2 separate regions of the Homo sapiens genome follow, and region 2 is linked to region 1. Evidence: fine-mapped expression QTL. Tissue or cell type: whole blood. Region 1 holds a variant in brackets; the other region holds the start of a gene. All regions are shown on one strand. Distances are from middle to middle.

Evidence for each region. PIP is the estimated chance that this variant, and not a neighbour inherited with it, causes the effect.
Region 2: PTPMT1 starts here. The variant in region 1 is fine-mapped to the expression of PTPMT1 in whole blood (TOPMed, PIP above 0.99).

What each region holds. Positions count from the first base shown.
Region 1 is chr11:47,639,610-47,647,712 of GRCh38, reverse strand. MTCH2 (mitochondrial carrier 2) reads left to right here and starts at 5,154. Exons shown (of 13, transcript NM_014342.4): 1 at 5,154-5,334. The coding sequence starts at 5,248. RefSeq lists a silencer at 4,964-5,233. The variant T/C (reference allele first, on the strand shown) is at 4,661.
Region 2 is chr11:47,560,739-47,568,841 of GRCh38, reverse strand. It overlaps PTPMT1 (protein tyrosine phosphatase mitochondrial 1), which reads right to left and starts at 3,243. Exons shown (of 4, transcript NM_175732.3): 1 at 3,046-3,243; 2 at 2,856-2,936. The coding sequence starts at 3,219. It also overlaps a transcript of CELF1 not described here. RefSeq lists silencers at 2,732-2,811, 2,942-3,421 and enhancers at 2,731-3,231, 3,232-3,732.

The DNA of each region.
Region 1 (8,103 bases):
CCAGGGAGACCTTGATGCTTTTTCAGTTCAGTATGTCAAAATACCATACATTTTGGGGTATTGGTTTTGGAGCCCTAACACAGACTTTGATAAGTATCCCCTGAGGGCCAAAATTAACCCTGTTGAGAACCACTAGTCTAAGCCAATCATTGGTTTAGGTGGTGGTGGGTGACTCCTGTCCAGTAATTCATGAGAATTCTGCTGGGGAGGTTTCTGAGAAAAGGTTTCTTCCTCCAAAAAGAGCCAATTTGAGAGCCAGGCATGGTGGCTCATGCCTGTAATCCCAGCACTTTGGGAAGTTGAGGCGGGCGGATCATCGAGGTCGGGAGATCGAGACCATCTTGGCTAATACAGTGAAACCCCGTCTCTACTACAAAAAAAAAAATTAGCCAGGCATGGTGGCACATTCCTATAGTCCCAGCTACTTAAGAGGAGGAGGCAGGAGAATCGCTTGAATCTGGGAACAGAGGTTGCAGTGAGCCGAGATCGTGCCATTCCACTCCAGCTTGGGTGACAACGTGAGACTCCGTCTCAAAAAAAAAAAAAAAAAAAAAAGAGCCATTTTGTGATGAGCTTTGGTGTGCCAAAAAAGAGAGAACTATTTTTAAAAAGACACCTTCTCGAAGGCTGGACGCGGTGACTCACACCTGTAATCCCAGCACTTTGGAAGGCCAAGGCAGGCAGATCACCTGAGGTTGGGAGTTCGAGACCAGCCTGACCAACATGGCAAAACCCCGTCTCTACTAAAAATAACAAAAATTAGCTGGGCGTGGTGTTGGGCGCCTGTAATCCCAGCGACTCGGGAGGCTGAGGCAACCTCCTTGAACCCGGGAGGCGGAGGTTGCAGTGAGCCAAGATCACACCATTGCACTGCAGCGTGGTCAACAAGAGTGAAACTCTGTCTCAAAAAAACAAAAACAGAAACAAAAACCCTTCTCTCTTCTTCCTCTGACTATCAGTGTTGCATATGAGGCTCAAAACTATTTTGATACCGGCCTAAGGAGGAAGAGCACAGGGATGGAAAGAATCTAGGTATTTGGTAAGACTCTTGTGTCACAGCCTCATCCAACTCAGAAGGCTCCTTGAACTCAGGTCTTCCTATAAGGCAAAATAAATATAATAAATATATGCCGGCTGGGTAAGCTGGTTCATGCCTGTAATCCCAGCACTTTGGGAGGCCGAGGTGGGAGGGTCACTTGAGCACAGAAGTTCAAGACCAGCCTGGACAGCCTTGGACCAGGTTAGGATTAAGACAGGGGCTTGAATTTTGCTAAGATACAGGCCCAGTTAAACGATAGCTAGTCATTATTCTGGCGATCACGAGATATAGGAGTAACTTTCCCAATTACTCCTATAGATAACATCACTATTGTACAACTTAAGATTGGCCTTTTACGACGTTTTTCAATTACTTGAGGTTTTTTGGTCTTTTTATTTTTCTCCTTTTTGTGGAAAATGGGGTCTTGCTGTGTTGCCCAGGCAGGTCTCAAACTATCCTCCCACCTCTGCCTGAAATGCTGGGATTACAGACGTAAACCATCACACCTGGCAGAGATAACATCACTAACATAGAATCTAAGATTGCCTTTTTGAGATGTTTTGGTGGCTACTGACTCCACTCAGACCCACCACTCATGACATCTGGTCCTGTGGCCTCCATCCAGAGGCTGTCAAGGACCGCTTTCTATACCCCTATGATTTCATCCCCAACCAATCAACATTCCCCATTTGAGCCCCCTGCCACCAAAGCATCCTTGAAAAACCCTCACCTCTGAGCCGTCGGGGAGAGTGATTTGAGCGATAACTTAAGTTCTTCCACATGGCCCACACTGTGTTAATTAAACTCTTTCTTTACTGTAATGCCACAGTCTCAGTGAACTGATTTTGTCTGTGCAGCAGGCAGGAAGAACCCACTGGACAATTACGTGATCTCTCTCCCAAGTCAGACCGCCTCCCAGTCCAGGAGACTTTTTTTTTTTTCTTCAAGACAGGCTCTTACTCTGTCCCCCAGGCTGGAGTGCAGTGGTACAATCTCGGTTCACTGTAACCTCTGCTTCCCAGGCTCGAGCAATCCTCCCACCTCAGCCTCCTAAGAAGCTGAGACTACAGGTGCAAGCCACCATGCTCAATTAATTTTTTTTTCTTTTTTGCAGAGACGGGGTTTCACTATGTTGCCCAGGCTGGTCTCAAACTCCCGAGCTCAAAGCAATCCACCCAAGTGCTGGGATTACAGGCATGTGCCCTGCTCCCAAGAGGCTTTTAACTGGTAAATCCATTCAGCCTTCCCTGGGCTTCATTTTTTTCTGAGATGGAGTTTCACTCTTGTTGCCCAGGCTGGAGTGCAATGGCATGATCTCGGCTCACTGCAACCTCCGCCTCCCGGGTTCAAGCGATTCTCCTGCCTCAGCCTCCCGAGTACCTGGGATTATAGGCATGTGTCACCACGCCCGGCTAATTTTGTTTTTTAGTAGAGATGGGTTATCTCCATGTTGGTCAGGCTGGTCTTGAACTCCTGACCTCAGGTGATCCGCCCACCTCAGCCTCCCAAAGTGCTGGGATTACAGGCGTGAGCCACCGCGCCCGGCTTCTGGGCTTCATTATTGACCTCTTGGAAGCTTTTGACATATTGACTATCCTTTCTTTTTCCAAACTTTTCTGTTGACTTCAGTGACATGCTGTTCTAGTTCTGTTTCCTTCCCAGTTAATTCTGCCCCTTTTGACTTCCGTTATTCCTCTCACCACTGCAATATGGGTCAGCAAATATAACCCATCTTAGGGTCATCATACTGAACTGTATCAGGGAATGCCATTCAGATCATAGTCTTTGTGACTGGCCCCACTCTGAGTTATGCAGTGCACAGCCTAGGCAGCTGTACATAGCACCTCTTCCCTTATCTATACTGCTGACTTCGGTTACCTATTCTCTGCAGATTCTTCCCAAAACCTCATCAGCAGCTTCTGCCTCACACCATTGGAAAATATTGTGGAGCAGACTGAATCCCCCAACCACCCACCCCTGGCAAGAGGCTCTGTGCCTCCCCATGCTCACTAGCATCAGTGGGACAAGGCAATATTATTTGGCACCATCAATGCACAAATCCAAGAATAAATAATCCAACCAGGTGTGGTGACTCACACCTGTAATCCCAGCACTTTGGGAGGCAGGTGGATCACTTGAGTTCAAGAGTTTGAGACCAGCCTGGGGCAACATGGCGAGACCCCATCTCTACTAAAAATACAAAAAAAATAGCTGGGCATGGTGGTGCACACCTGTGGTCCCAGCTAATTGGGAGACTAAGGTAGGAGGATCGCTTGAGCCCAGGAGGTGGAGGTTGCAGTGAGCCGAGATTGCACCACTGCACTCCAGCCTGGGTGACAAAGAGAGACCCTGTCTCAAAAAAAAAAAGAAAAGAATCCCCTGCTAAATAGTCTCTCTGGCTCAGCTTTATGTTTCTAGATTCAGTTAGAAGCAACTTGTTTCTTACAACTTTATTTTTTATTTATTTATTCTTTTGAGACTGAGTCTCGCCCTGTCACCCAGGCTGGAGTGCAATGGCGCAATCTTGGCTCACTGCAACCTCCAACTCCCGAGTTCAAGCGATTCTCCTGCCTCAGCCTCCCGAGTAGCTGGGATTACAGGCACCCGCCATCACACCCAACTAATTTTTGTACTTTTAGTACAGATGGGGTTTCACCATGTCGGTCAGGCTGGTCTTGAACTCCCGACCTCAGGTGATCCACCCACCTCAGCCTTCTAAAGTGTTGGGATTACAGGTGTGAGCCACCGTGCCCAGCCAATATCTGTATTTCAATATAAAGTTTTTTAAAAAAAACCCTTTCCTATGCATAATTTCACTTAATGCTCATAATAACCCTGAGAGATACACAGTAGTGTTAGATTTAGATACAAAAACTGGAAATTAAAGTAGCTAAAATGACAAATGGATGCAGTGGAAAAGCCAGGATCCAAATCCAAGTCTTTCCCCTACAGTACTTCACTCTGCTCCAAGCTCAGATTCACCAAATGTTGTTTGATAGAACACGTGAGCTGGGGCTGAAGGAGCAGGGACAATGCCTTTTTCACTTTTGCCTCTGATAGCCTGTAGACTGGTAGGCACTGAAGTATTTGTTCACTTGTGCAATAAATATTTATTGAGCACCTCGTATGTGCTGGGCACTGAAAACACAACCGTGAACAGAGGCTGTCACGGTTCCTGAACTCATGGAGCTTTCATTCCAGTGGAGGAGACATAATTTCAGTGATAATGCTACGACGGGGCACAATGTGGGAGAAAATAAGAGGGAGGTGGCCAGGCGCGATGGCTCCTCACTCCTGTAATCCCAGCACTTTGGGAGGCCAAGGCGGGTGAATCACGAGGTCAGGAGTTTGAGACCAGCCCGGCCAACATCGTGAAACCCCGTCTCTACTAAATAGACAAAAATTAGCCGGGCGTGGTGGCGTGTGCGTGTAATCCCAGCTACTAGGGAGGCTGAGGCAGGAGCATTGCTTGAACCTGGGAGGCGAAGGTTGCAGTGAGCTGAGATCGGGCCACTGCACTCCAGCCTGGGTGACAGAGCGAGACTCCGTCTCAAAAAAAAAAAAAAAAAGAAAGAAAAAGAAAAGGGGGAGGTAATTTTAGAATGGTCAGAGAAGGTTTTT[T/C]TGAAAAGATAACATTAATCAAACGAATAAATGAATGAAAAGCCACTCGCTAGCGGATTCATTATTTGCTATACTTATTTAGAGTTTGTCAGTCACGAGACTGTTACGGCTCTGATGCTGAGTATCTTTTGAATCCTATGTTGATGATGCCCAAAAGGCAAGTGCAGAGATGAAGCATAATGAAGAATCCTTTTCAATTTCTTTTCAGTCCTCTGACCTTGCCTCTGCCGTCACGGTCACACTCCCCCACTGACACTCCCATTCTTCTGTTTCCGGACACTTGCGGCCTGGAAGCGCATGTGCAAGAGAAACCGTCATTCCTGGTGAAGGGCGAGCCCCCGGCAGAACGCATGCGCCTCTGTCCCTTAAGCCCCGCCCCGACCTCAGCGCCCCCTCGCGAGCGCCTGCCGTTTCTCGGGGCGGGACGGGGGGGCGGGGACTGGGCGGAGAGGCGCGTGCTGCTGCGTGCGTGCGCGCGCGCCGCGGGCGGGCCAGTGAAACCGGCGGCCCTGGCACGTGACCTAGGACCGGCTCACCGGGTCGCTTGGTGGCTCCGTCTGTCTGTCCGTCCGCCCGCGGGTGCCATCATGGCGGACGCGGCCAGTCAGGTGCTCCTGGGCTCCGGTCTCACCATCCTGTCCCAGCCGCTCATGTACGTGAAAGTGCTCATCCAGGTATGAGGCGTCGCCGCTCCCTACCCCGCCCGGCGCCCCGTTCGGTCGCTGCTGCTCAGGGCGCCTGAGGATCGGCTCAGCCTTGCGGGCCTTTCATTCTCCCGAGATGCTGCTGCTCCTCCGCTGCCCTTTACCTCCCCGCAGGGACAGCTTCCTCAGTCCCGCGGCCCCGCTTGGGGGCCTCGCCGAGCCCTCGCCTCGCCGCCCAGCGTTGAGGCCCTCTCCTCCCTTAGCCAACCGCCACCCGGCCCTGCCCTGCCCGGCGGATCCTCTGAACTTTGGTTCTTCGTCACTGAGGTGGATCCTGGCCGGTCGCCACCAAAGGCTTCCGAACCCTCCCTCTCGCCCCTCCGAAATTCACATTCACCACTACTCCCCCCAAAATCTCAGACGCAAAACACGAAATACTCAGTTGAAGACAAATGTGAAGTTAGGTGGGAACCAACATTTTATTTTTTATTCCTTTTTTTTTTCTTTTTATGCTACTGTTACTACTGCTTTTCTGTTCCGAGGTTTTCGCACCAGATACTGAGAGAAACACAAGGAGCTCATTCAGAAGTGTTAATGAAGGGGTTGCTCTGTCAGATTTCGGAAGGATGCATTGAGCGCTTTCCAGCAGCGGCCCATGTGGCTCCTGACAATGAAAATCACATTTGTCAGAGCTGGAAATTAGTGAAGCTGAGTTTTAGCGAGTTTAAACATGGGAGTTAGTTTCTAATCTACTGTCAAATAATTATTACATGGTATTTTATATTCACATGCAGGTAGGCCAAGTAAGTGATAGACTTAGTGTTTCCAGTTCCTTTGCTATATCCCTGTAATGGGCAGGTCATTCTTTTTTTTATGCTTTTACTGAGAGTTGACATAATTACCTCATGCACTGTGCCTAGGAATGGAACAGTTTTTAGAACCCCTGTCTCGCCGTCTACTTTTCTGTAAAAAATAGGCAAGACACTAGAGAGGGCCCCATTTCTTATTCTTGAGTTGTTGGGAATCCAAATTATTTCTTGCTGAGTAGACCTGTGTGAATTCAGATTCCATATGTTAAAGGCTATTGCAAATAAATTCTTTGTACTTAGAACAAAGACTGATTAGAATGTACTGTAACATCCAAAACAGAATTGGCACATTTGGGGCTAGATAGCATCGGAGGTGACAGCATGTTGCAGTATATAGTAAGAACCCTTGGGGCCGGGCGCGTTCGCTCACGCCTTCCCAGCACTTTGGGAGGCCGAGGTGAGCGGATCACGAGGTCGATGTTTGAGACCAGTCTGACCAACATGGTGAAACCCCGTCTCTACTAAAAATACAAAATATAGCCAGGTGTGGTGGTGCGTGCACGTAATCCCAGCTAGTCGGGAGGCTGAGGCAGGAGAATCGCTTGAACCCGGGAGGTGAAGGTTGCAGTGAGCCGAGATCGCGCCATTGTACTCCAGCCTGGGCAACAGAGCAAAACTCAGCCTCAAAAAAACAAAACAAAACAAAAAAGAACCCACTACTCAATACTTCTCTGGGAGACGGGGTTTTCTAATGATGTTCAGAGCTCTTGCCCCAAAAACTTTGAATATTCTTAATTCTGATTTCACAACATCTATGTGTTGCCAAGTAGCCCAGGAGTTTTGGTGAAATTCCCAAATGCTCAGTTGTAAAAATAGTTACTTGGGCCGGGCACGGTGGCTCACGCCTGTAAATCCCAACACTTTGGGAGCCTGAAACAGGCGGTTCACCTGAGGTCAGGAGTTAAAGACTAGCCTGGCCAACATGGCAAAACCCCCTCTCTACTAAAAATACAAAAATTAGCTGGGTGTGGTGGTGGGTGCCTGTAATCCCAGCTACTCAGGAGGCTGAGGTACGAGAATGGCTTAAACCTGGGAGATGGAGGTTGCAGTGACCTAGATCGTGCCACTGCACTCCAGCCTGGGCGACAAGAGCGAAACTCTGTCTCCAAAAAATAAATAAGTAACTAAATAAAAATAAAAATGGTTACTTGGTAGCACTTTCAGGGAGCTCAGACAGGAGTTATTTGTTTATTTATTTGTTGTTGTTTTTGAGATGGAGTTTTGCTCTTGTCACCCAGACTGGCATGCAATGGCACAATCTCGGCTCACTGCAACCTCCGCCTCCCAGGTTCAAGCGACTGTCCTGCCTTAGCCTCTTGAGTAGCTGGGATTACAGGTGTCCGCCACCACACCTGGCTAATTTTTGTGTTTTTAGTAGAGACAGGGTTTCACCATGTTGGCCAGGCTGGTCTTGAACTCCTGACCTCAGGTGATCCGCCCACCTTGGCCTCCCAAAGTGCTGGGATTACATGCATGAGCCACCACGCCAGCCCAGGAGTTACTTAATAGGACAGATTAAGAGTCACAACAATAATCAAAACTATGTCCTACAGCATTCATTCTGTCAAGTATCTGTAGTGTTAAAAATCCTGGGTATATTGTACAAAGACCATGGTAATCATTAACTATATAAAATGGACTTCATTAGCTGTTAATGACAGCCTGTGTTTTTTTGTTTGTTCGTTTGTTTGTTTGTTTTTGAGATGGAGTCTCGCTGTTGTCGGCCTCGGCTGGAGTGCAGTGACACAATCTCGGCTCACTGCAACCTCTGCCTCCCGGGTTCAAGTGATTCTCCTGCCTCAGCCTCCCAAGTAGCTGAGATTACAGGCGCCCGCCCCTACGCCCGGCTAATTTTTTAGTTCTAGTAGAGACAGGGTTTCACCATGTTGGCCAGACTGGTCTCGAACTCCTGACCTCAGGTGATCCATCC
Region 2 (8,103 bases), 79 kb after region 1:
GTGGATGCCTGTGATCCCAGCTACTAGGGAGGCTGAGGCAGGAGAATTGTTTAACCCTGGAGGGAGAGGTTGCAGTGAGCAGAGATCGCACCATTGTACTCCAGCCTGGGAGACAAGAGCAAAACAACATCTCAAAAATATATATATATTTTATTTTAGAGACACGATCTTGCTATGTCACCCAGGTCAGAGAGCAGTGGTATGCAATCATGGCTCCTTGCAGCCTCAAACTCCTAAGCTCAAGCAGTCCTCCCACCTCAGCCTCCCAAGTAGCTGTGACTACAGCTGCATGCCACTGTGCCTGGCTAATTTTGTTATTTTTGTGTGTGTGCAGATGGGGGTCTCGCTATGTTGCCCAGGCTGGTCTCAATCTCCTAGCCTCAAGCCATCCTCCTGTCTCAGCCTCCCAAAATGCTGGGATTACAGGCATGAGCCACCAGGCCCAGCCAGTGTAATTTTTTTGCATAATTTTGGCACCTGTGTAGTGATTCAGCTGCAGATTTGGGGTACAATATTTTGCCAAGGCTTTCTATTTCTCTGTCCATAAGTCTCTTTTTTACCACTGTTTTTTGAGGGAACATATGGTAGAAAATAGGGTTATCATTTTAAAATTAAAACAATGGGCCGGGCATGGTGGCTCATGCCTGTAATCCCAGCACTTTGGGAGGCCAAGGCGGGCGGATCACGAGGTCAGGAGATTTAGACCATCCTGGCTAACACGGTGAAACCCCGTCTCTACTAAAAATACAAAAAAATTAGCCGGGCATGGTGGCAGGCGCCTGTAGTCCCAGCTACTTGGGAGGCTGAGGCAGGAGAATGGCATGAACCCAGGAGGCGGAGCTTGCAGTGAGCCGAGATCGTGCCACTGCACTTCCAGCCTAGGCGACAGAGCAAGACTCCGTCTCAAAAACAAAAACAAAAATAAAATTAAAACAATGCACTGACCTTCATTAGTGCAATGTTATCACTTAGAAGAAATAGGTGGCCAGGTGTGGTGGCTCACGCCTGTAATCCCAGATTTTGAGAGGCCAAGGTGGGCAGATCACCTGAGGTCAGGAGTTCGAGACGACTTTGGCCAGCATGGCAAAACCCTATCTCCATAAAAAATACAAAAATTAGCCAGGCATGCTGGCAGGCACCTGTAATTCCAGCTACTTGGGAGGCTGAGGCAGGAGAATCACTTGAACTGGGAGGCAGAGGTTGCAGTGAGCTGAGATTGCACCATTGCACTCCAGCCTGGGCAAGGGAGTGAGACTCCATCTCAAAAAAAAAAAAAAAAAAAGAAAAGAAATAGAAATAAGGTCTCTGGCAACTGGGCAAACTTTATGCTTTAAGACTTCAGATATGCTCCAGCTACTCTTGTTATTAACCTCTTAATAATGAGTATCAGAGACTTTATGGTTCTAAATGAAGATCAGTAATTCTTTTTTTTTTTTGAGACGGAGACTCACTCTGTCGCCCAGGCTGGCGTGCAGTGGTGCAATCTCGGCCCACTGCAACTTCTGCCTCCCGGGTTCAAGCGATTCTCCTGCCTCAGCCTCCCAAGTAGCTAGGATTACAGGCGCCTGCCACCACGCCCGGCTAATTTTTTTGTGTGATTTTAGTACAGACGGGGTTTCACCATTTTGGCCAGGCTGATCTCAAACTCCTGACCTCAGGTGATCCACCCACCTCAGCCTCCCAAAGTGCTGGGATTACAGGTGTGAGAGCCACCACGCCTGGCCAAGTCACAAATATTTTCAAGGTTTCAAAAAAATCCTCAGGTTGAAATAATAGTATCTTCATCATGCTATATCAGTAAAACAAATGAGAAAGATAATTGTTTAGTGCTATTAGATGCCAAACGCTATAAAGATAGGGCAACATTAAAAAAAAATCAAATAGCTCAGATTGTAGATAACATCTTCTAATAACCATTGTGGAAGATTCCACAAACAGGCCAGTCACATTTAATGAAAGTTATGTTTTAGGCCTAAACTTTGTTATGAGAGAACTTTGGAGTTCCACCATGATTTCTAATATATGACTAAAAATTCCCCCAAATCAGAGCCAAATGAACTCTACAGTTTTCAATGGATAGTTTTATGAAAAATCTGGGGAGGGGAGAGTGTTAAGGGGGTGCTTTTCGTCTTACAGTTGGCAGGGCCTTCATCTGGAATCCCTAACACTGGGAATGCTGACCCATACTCAGAGCTCAAAGTATAGAAAGAATGAATGAAATCAGGAAGGCATGGGAAAGTTGCCTTTCAATTTTAGTTTCTGATTTTGGTTACCGAAATAAGAATACATTACATTTGTTCACAAAGGAGAAATCAGGCTTTGTCAACTTCCACTTTTTTTTTTTTTTTTTTTGAGACATTGTTTCACTCCTGTCGCCCAAGGCTGGGCTGGAATGCAATGGCGAGATGTCGGCTCACTGCAACCTCCACCTCCCGGGCTAAAGTGATTCTCCTGCCTTAGCCTCCCAAGTAGCTGGGAGTACAGGCGCACGCCACCACTCCCGGCTACTTTTTGTATTTTTGTAGGGACGGGGGCCTCGCCATGTTGCCCAGGCTGGTCAGGAACTCCTGGGCTCAAGTGATCTGCCCGCCTCCTCCTCCCGCCTCCCAAAGTGCTGGGATTACAGGCGTGAGTCCCCGCGCCCGGCCCAACTTGAACTTTTAAATAAACGCCTTTCACAGCTTCTAGCCTACCTCCAGGTGCCATTTAGAGGCACAGACCGGAGGCAAAGCAGCTTGAGACACCTGGCTCCGGTGCATGGTGACCTCCCCCACACTTCTCTAGCCGTCCCAGGCTCAGGGCGGTGGGCGAGGGGGAGCGGGCCCCCGAGCCTGCCCCTCGGCCCGGTCCCTCACCTGTGAAGAGTTGCACAGGAACCTCGTCTCGTACTCCTCGTTCATGGTGATCACCCCGCGCACGTTCTCGTCCTGTACCAGCTGCCGAGGCAAAGAGGTGGCTCAGCAAAGACGGTGGAGACCCCAGCGGCCCGACAGGGACGGAGCGGCGGGGACGGGGCAGGGGCCCGGGCTCCCCGGCCCGGCTCACCTGGCGCGTCAAGCTCCGCAACGGCAGCGCGCCCAGCAGCACGGTGGGGTCGATGCGGTGGTACCAGTCCCGGTGCGCCCGACCCGGCACCTTCCCGCGGAACAGGGTGTAGAGCAGCGTCGGGTAGAAGAGCACCCGCGCCAGGCCGGCCTCCAGCAGCGCGGTGGCCGCCATCCCGGCCCGGCGCAGCGGCGACCCGTCGGCCCCCGCGCTCGCGGTCCGGACCCGCGAGAAGAGCAGGCGGGTGCCGGGGCGGGGCTGCCAGCTGCACTAGGCCTCTCGCGGGCTCGCACCGGGTGACGGCGGGGACTGGCCTGGACTCTGGGGGACTGGCGGGACTCTGGAGGAGGGCCCGGCGGCCTCGGAGGAGGGACCGAGGTTTCCTGGGCGGGAAACTGGGACCCCGGCGAAGGGAGAGCGCGTCGCAGGCCAGACACGTGTGAGCCCTGTAGCGTGGGAAACTGAGGCCCCCGCCTGTGGCCGGTGACCTCCCTCCTCCGAGGGAGGGGGGTTGTGACCCCAGGTGAGAGGGGCAGGAAGGACCCCTGCGTGTGGAACTGTGACTCCGGCCGAGGGAGGAGGGGACACTCCCCCCAACCCTCGACCAGAGGAAGGGGGCAGTGACCCAGGTGCGGGTGTGACCCCGCCAAAGGGAAGACAAGACAAGGAGAGGCTGTGTGGCGGGGTAGCCCTGAAGAGGACAGTGGAAGGGCTTAGAGCTTTCAAACAGAGGAGCTACCTGGGTGAGGGCCTGATCCCAGGGTGAACAGGGGTCCTGGGTTGAGGTCGCCTTCCTCCTCCCCTCCCCTGTCCTAGGGCAGGGCTCCCTCCTTCATCTGACCAAACAGCAGTGTTTACATAGCAGGAAAAAATAGGAAAATATACATTATATTAATATATCCTTAAGAAAAATATTATGAAGAGCTCAAATATAAAACCTGCAACCTACAAAAAGGTAAGAAGAATGGTTGTAATGCCAGCTATTTACTTTTTGTTTGTTTGTTTTGAGACGGAGTCTCACTCTGTTGCCCAGGCTAGAGGGCAGTCGCAAGATCTCAGCTCACTGCAACCTCCGCCTCCCGGGTTCAAACGATTCTCCTGCCTCAGCCTCCTGAGTAGCTGGGATTACAGGTGCATGCCACCACACCCAGCTAACTTTTGTTTTTAGTAGAGACGAGGTTTCACCTTGTCAGCCAGGCTGGTCTCGAACCTAAGGTGATCCGCCCACCTCAGCCTCCCAAAGTGCTGGCATTACAGGCATGAGCCACTGCACCCGGCCCAAGCATCTGGTGGAGTTTTTGTTTTTTGTTTTTTGTTTTTGAGACAGAGTTTCACTATTGTCACCCAAGCTGCAGTGCAATGGCGTGATCTCAGCACACTGCAACCTCTGCCTCCCAGGTTCAAGCAATTCTCCTGCCTCAGCCTCCCGAGTAGCTGGGATTACAGGTACATGTCACCACGCCCAGCTAAGTTTTGTATTTTTAGTGAGATGGCTTCAACATGTTGACCAGGCTGGTCTCAAACTCCTGACCTCAGGTGATCCATCCCCCTGGCCTCCCAAAGTGCCAGGATTACAGGCATGAGCCACCGCGCCCGGCTTTCTTTTTTTTTTTTTTTTTTTTTTTGTATTTTTAGTAGAGATGGGGTTTCACCATGTTGGCCAGGCTAGTCTTGAACTCCTGACCTATGGTGATCTGCCAGCCTCAGCCTCCCAAAGTGTTGGGATTACAGGCATGAGCCACACGCCCGGCCCAAGCATCTGGTGGAGATTTTGTTTGTTTGTTTGTTTTTAAGATAGAGTTTCACTCTTGTCACCCAAGCTGGAGTGCAATGGCGTGATCTCAGCTCACTGCAACCTCTGCCTCCCAGGTTCAAGCAATTCTCCTGCCTCAGCCTCCCGAGTAGCTGCCACCACGCCCAGCTAAGTTTTGTATTTTTAGTAGAGACAGGGTTTCACCATGTTGGCCAGACTGGTCTCAAAGTCCTGACCTGAGGAGATCCGTCCCCCTCGGCCTTCCAAAGTGCCGGGATTACAGGCATAAGCCACCATGCCCGGCCCATCTGGTGGTTTTAAAAGATTCATTTTCTTTTTTTTATATTTTGTTTTTGAGACGGAGTCTCCTTCTATTGACTAGGCTGAAGTGTAGTGGCGCCATCTCCACTCACTGCAACCTCCACCTCCCGGGTTCAAGCAGTTCTCCTGCCTCATCCTCCCCAGTAGCTAGAACTACAGGTGCCCGCCACCATGCCTGGCTAATTTTGTGTGTGTTTTTAATAGAGATGGGGTTTCACCATGTTGGCCGGGCTGCTCTTGAACTCCTGACCTCAGGTGTTCCACCCGCCTTGGTCTCCCAAAGTGCTGGGATTACAGGCATGAGCCACCGCACCCAGCCTAATTTTAGAATATTTTCATTGCCCTCAAAATAAGCCCCTTATGAATTAGCAGAGACTCACCATTTTCTCCCAATCATCCTCCAGCCTTAGGCAAACACTACTAACCTGCTTTCTGACTGTATAGATTTACATGTTTAGCATGTTGAGGGCATTTCTTCTTTTTACTTTTCTTTTTTTTTTTTCTAGGAAACAGGGTCTCACTGTCACCCAGGCTAGAGTGCAGTGGCAGCGTGATCATGACTCACTGTAGCCCCGACCTTTTGGGTGCAAGCAGTCCTCCTACCTCAGCCTCCCAAGGAGTTGAGACTACAGACGTGTGCCACGATACCTGGCTAATTTTTTATTATTTGTAGCGATGGGGTCTCACTATGTTGCCCAAACTGATCTCGGGACTGGGCACAGTGGCTCACACCTGTAATCCCAGCACTTTGGGAGGCGGAGGCAGAGGCAGGCAGATCACCTGAGGTCAGGAGTTTGAGACCAGCCTGGCCAACATGGTGAAACCCCGTCTCTACTAAAAAAATACAAAAATTAGCCAGGTATAATAGTGGGCGCCTGTAATCCCAGCTACTTGGGAGGCTGAGGCAGGAGAATCACTTGAACCCAGGAGGCGGAGTTTGTGATAAGCCAAGATCGCGCCACTGCACTTCAGCCTGGGTGACAGAGTGAGACTCCATATCAAAAAAAAAACAAAACAAAACAAAAAAAAACTGATCTGGAACTCCTGGGCTCAAACAATCCTCCTGATTTGGCCTCCCAAAGTACTGGGATTACAGGTCTGAACCACTGCATCCAGCCTAGGGTATTTCAAATAAATGGAGTCATACAATATGTGTTCTTTGTATCTGGCTGCTTTTTTTTTTTTTTTTTTTTGAGATAGAGTTTCACTCCTGTTGCCCAGGCTGGAGTGCAATGGTGTGATCTTAGCTCACTGCAACCTCTACCTCCTGGGCTCAAGCAATTCTCCCACCTCAGCCTCCTGAGTAGCTGGGACCACAGGTGCGTACCACCACACCTGGTGGCGAATTTTTGTATTTTTGGTAGAGACAGGCTTTCACCATATTGCCCAGGTTGGTCTCGAACTCCTGGACTCAAGCGATCTGCCTGCCTCAGCCTCTCTAAGTGCTGGCATTACAGGTGTGAGCCACCCCACCCAACTTTTTTTTTTTTTTTTTTGAGATGGAGTTTCGCTCTTGTTACCCAGGCTGGAGTGCAATGGCACAATCTCAGCTCACCACAACCTCCGCCTCTCAGGTTCAAGCAATTCTCCTGCCTCAGCCTCCCTAGTATCTGGGATTACAGGTATGCACCACCACTCCTGGCTAATTTTGTATTTTTAGTAGAGACGGGGTTTCTCCATGTTGGTTAGCCTGGTCTCGAACTCCCGACCTCAGGTGATCAGCCTGCCTCGGCCTCCCAAAGTGCTGGGATTACAGGTGTGAGCCACTGCGCCCAGCTTTTTTTTTTTCTTAATAGATATCACTTGTGTGTTGATACCTGTCTTATGCTTAGAATGTTTTCAAGGTTCGTCCATGTTGTAGCAAGTATCAGGACTGTCCTTCTTTTTATTGCCAAATAATATTTCAATGTATGGACAGACCACATGTTTTTCTCCATTTATCAGTTTATGAACATTTGAGTTGTTTCCACTTTTGGCTATTTTGAACAATGCTGCTGGGAACATTTGCATACAACTTACGGACATAGGTTTTCATTTCTCTTGTATATTTGACTAATCATGGAATTGTTAGGTCATAGGGTAGTACAGTGTTTAACCTTTTGAAGAACTGTCAGTTTTCCAAAGTGGACTGCACCTTTTTGCATCCCCACCAGGAGAGTATGGAGGGTTCCAATGTTGCCACATGGTTGCCAACACTTATTATCTGTCTTTCATTATAGCCATTTTAGTGGGTGTGGTGTCTCTTTGTGGAATAAACTTTTTTTTTTTTTTTTTTTTTTTGAGACGGAGTCTCGTTCTGTCGCCCAGGCTGGAGTGCAGTGGTGCGATCTCGGCTCACTGCAAGCTCCGCCTCCTGGGTTCATGCCATTCTCCTGCCTCAGCCTCCCAAGTAGCTGGGACTACAGGCGCCCGCTACCACACCCGGCTTATTTTTTGTATTTTTAGTAGAGATGGGTTTCTCCGTGTTAGCCAGGATGGTCTCAATCTCCTGACCTCGTGATCCACCTGTCTCGGCCTCCCAAAATGCTGGGATTACAGGCCTGAGCCACCTCACCCAGCGAAATACACTTTTTTTTTTTTTTTTTGAGACAGAGTCTCACTCTGTTGCCCAGGCTAGAGTGCAGTGGCATGATCTCCACTCAATACAAGCTCTGCCTCCCGGGCTCATGCCATTCTCCTGCCTCTGCCTCTCAAGTAGCTGGGACTACAGGCGCCCACCACCACGCCCGGCTAATTTTTTGTATTTTTAGTAGAGACGGGGTTTCACCATATTAGCCAGGATGGTCTCGATCTCCTGACCTCGTGATCTGTCCGCCTCGGACTCCCAAAGTGCTGGGCTTACAGGCGTGAGCCACTGCGCCCAGCCAGAATAAACTTTTAAATGTGGAATAATTTAGATGCACAGAAAGGTTTTAAAAATAGTACTGAGAGTCCATTATGCCCACCCCCCTCCAATGTTAACATTATTTTTGGGAACAGCTTTA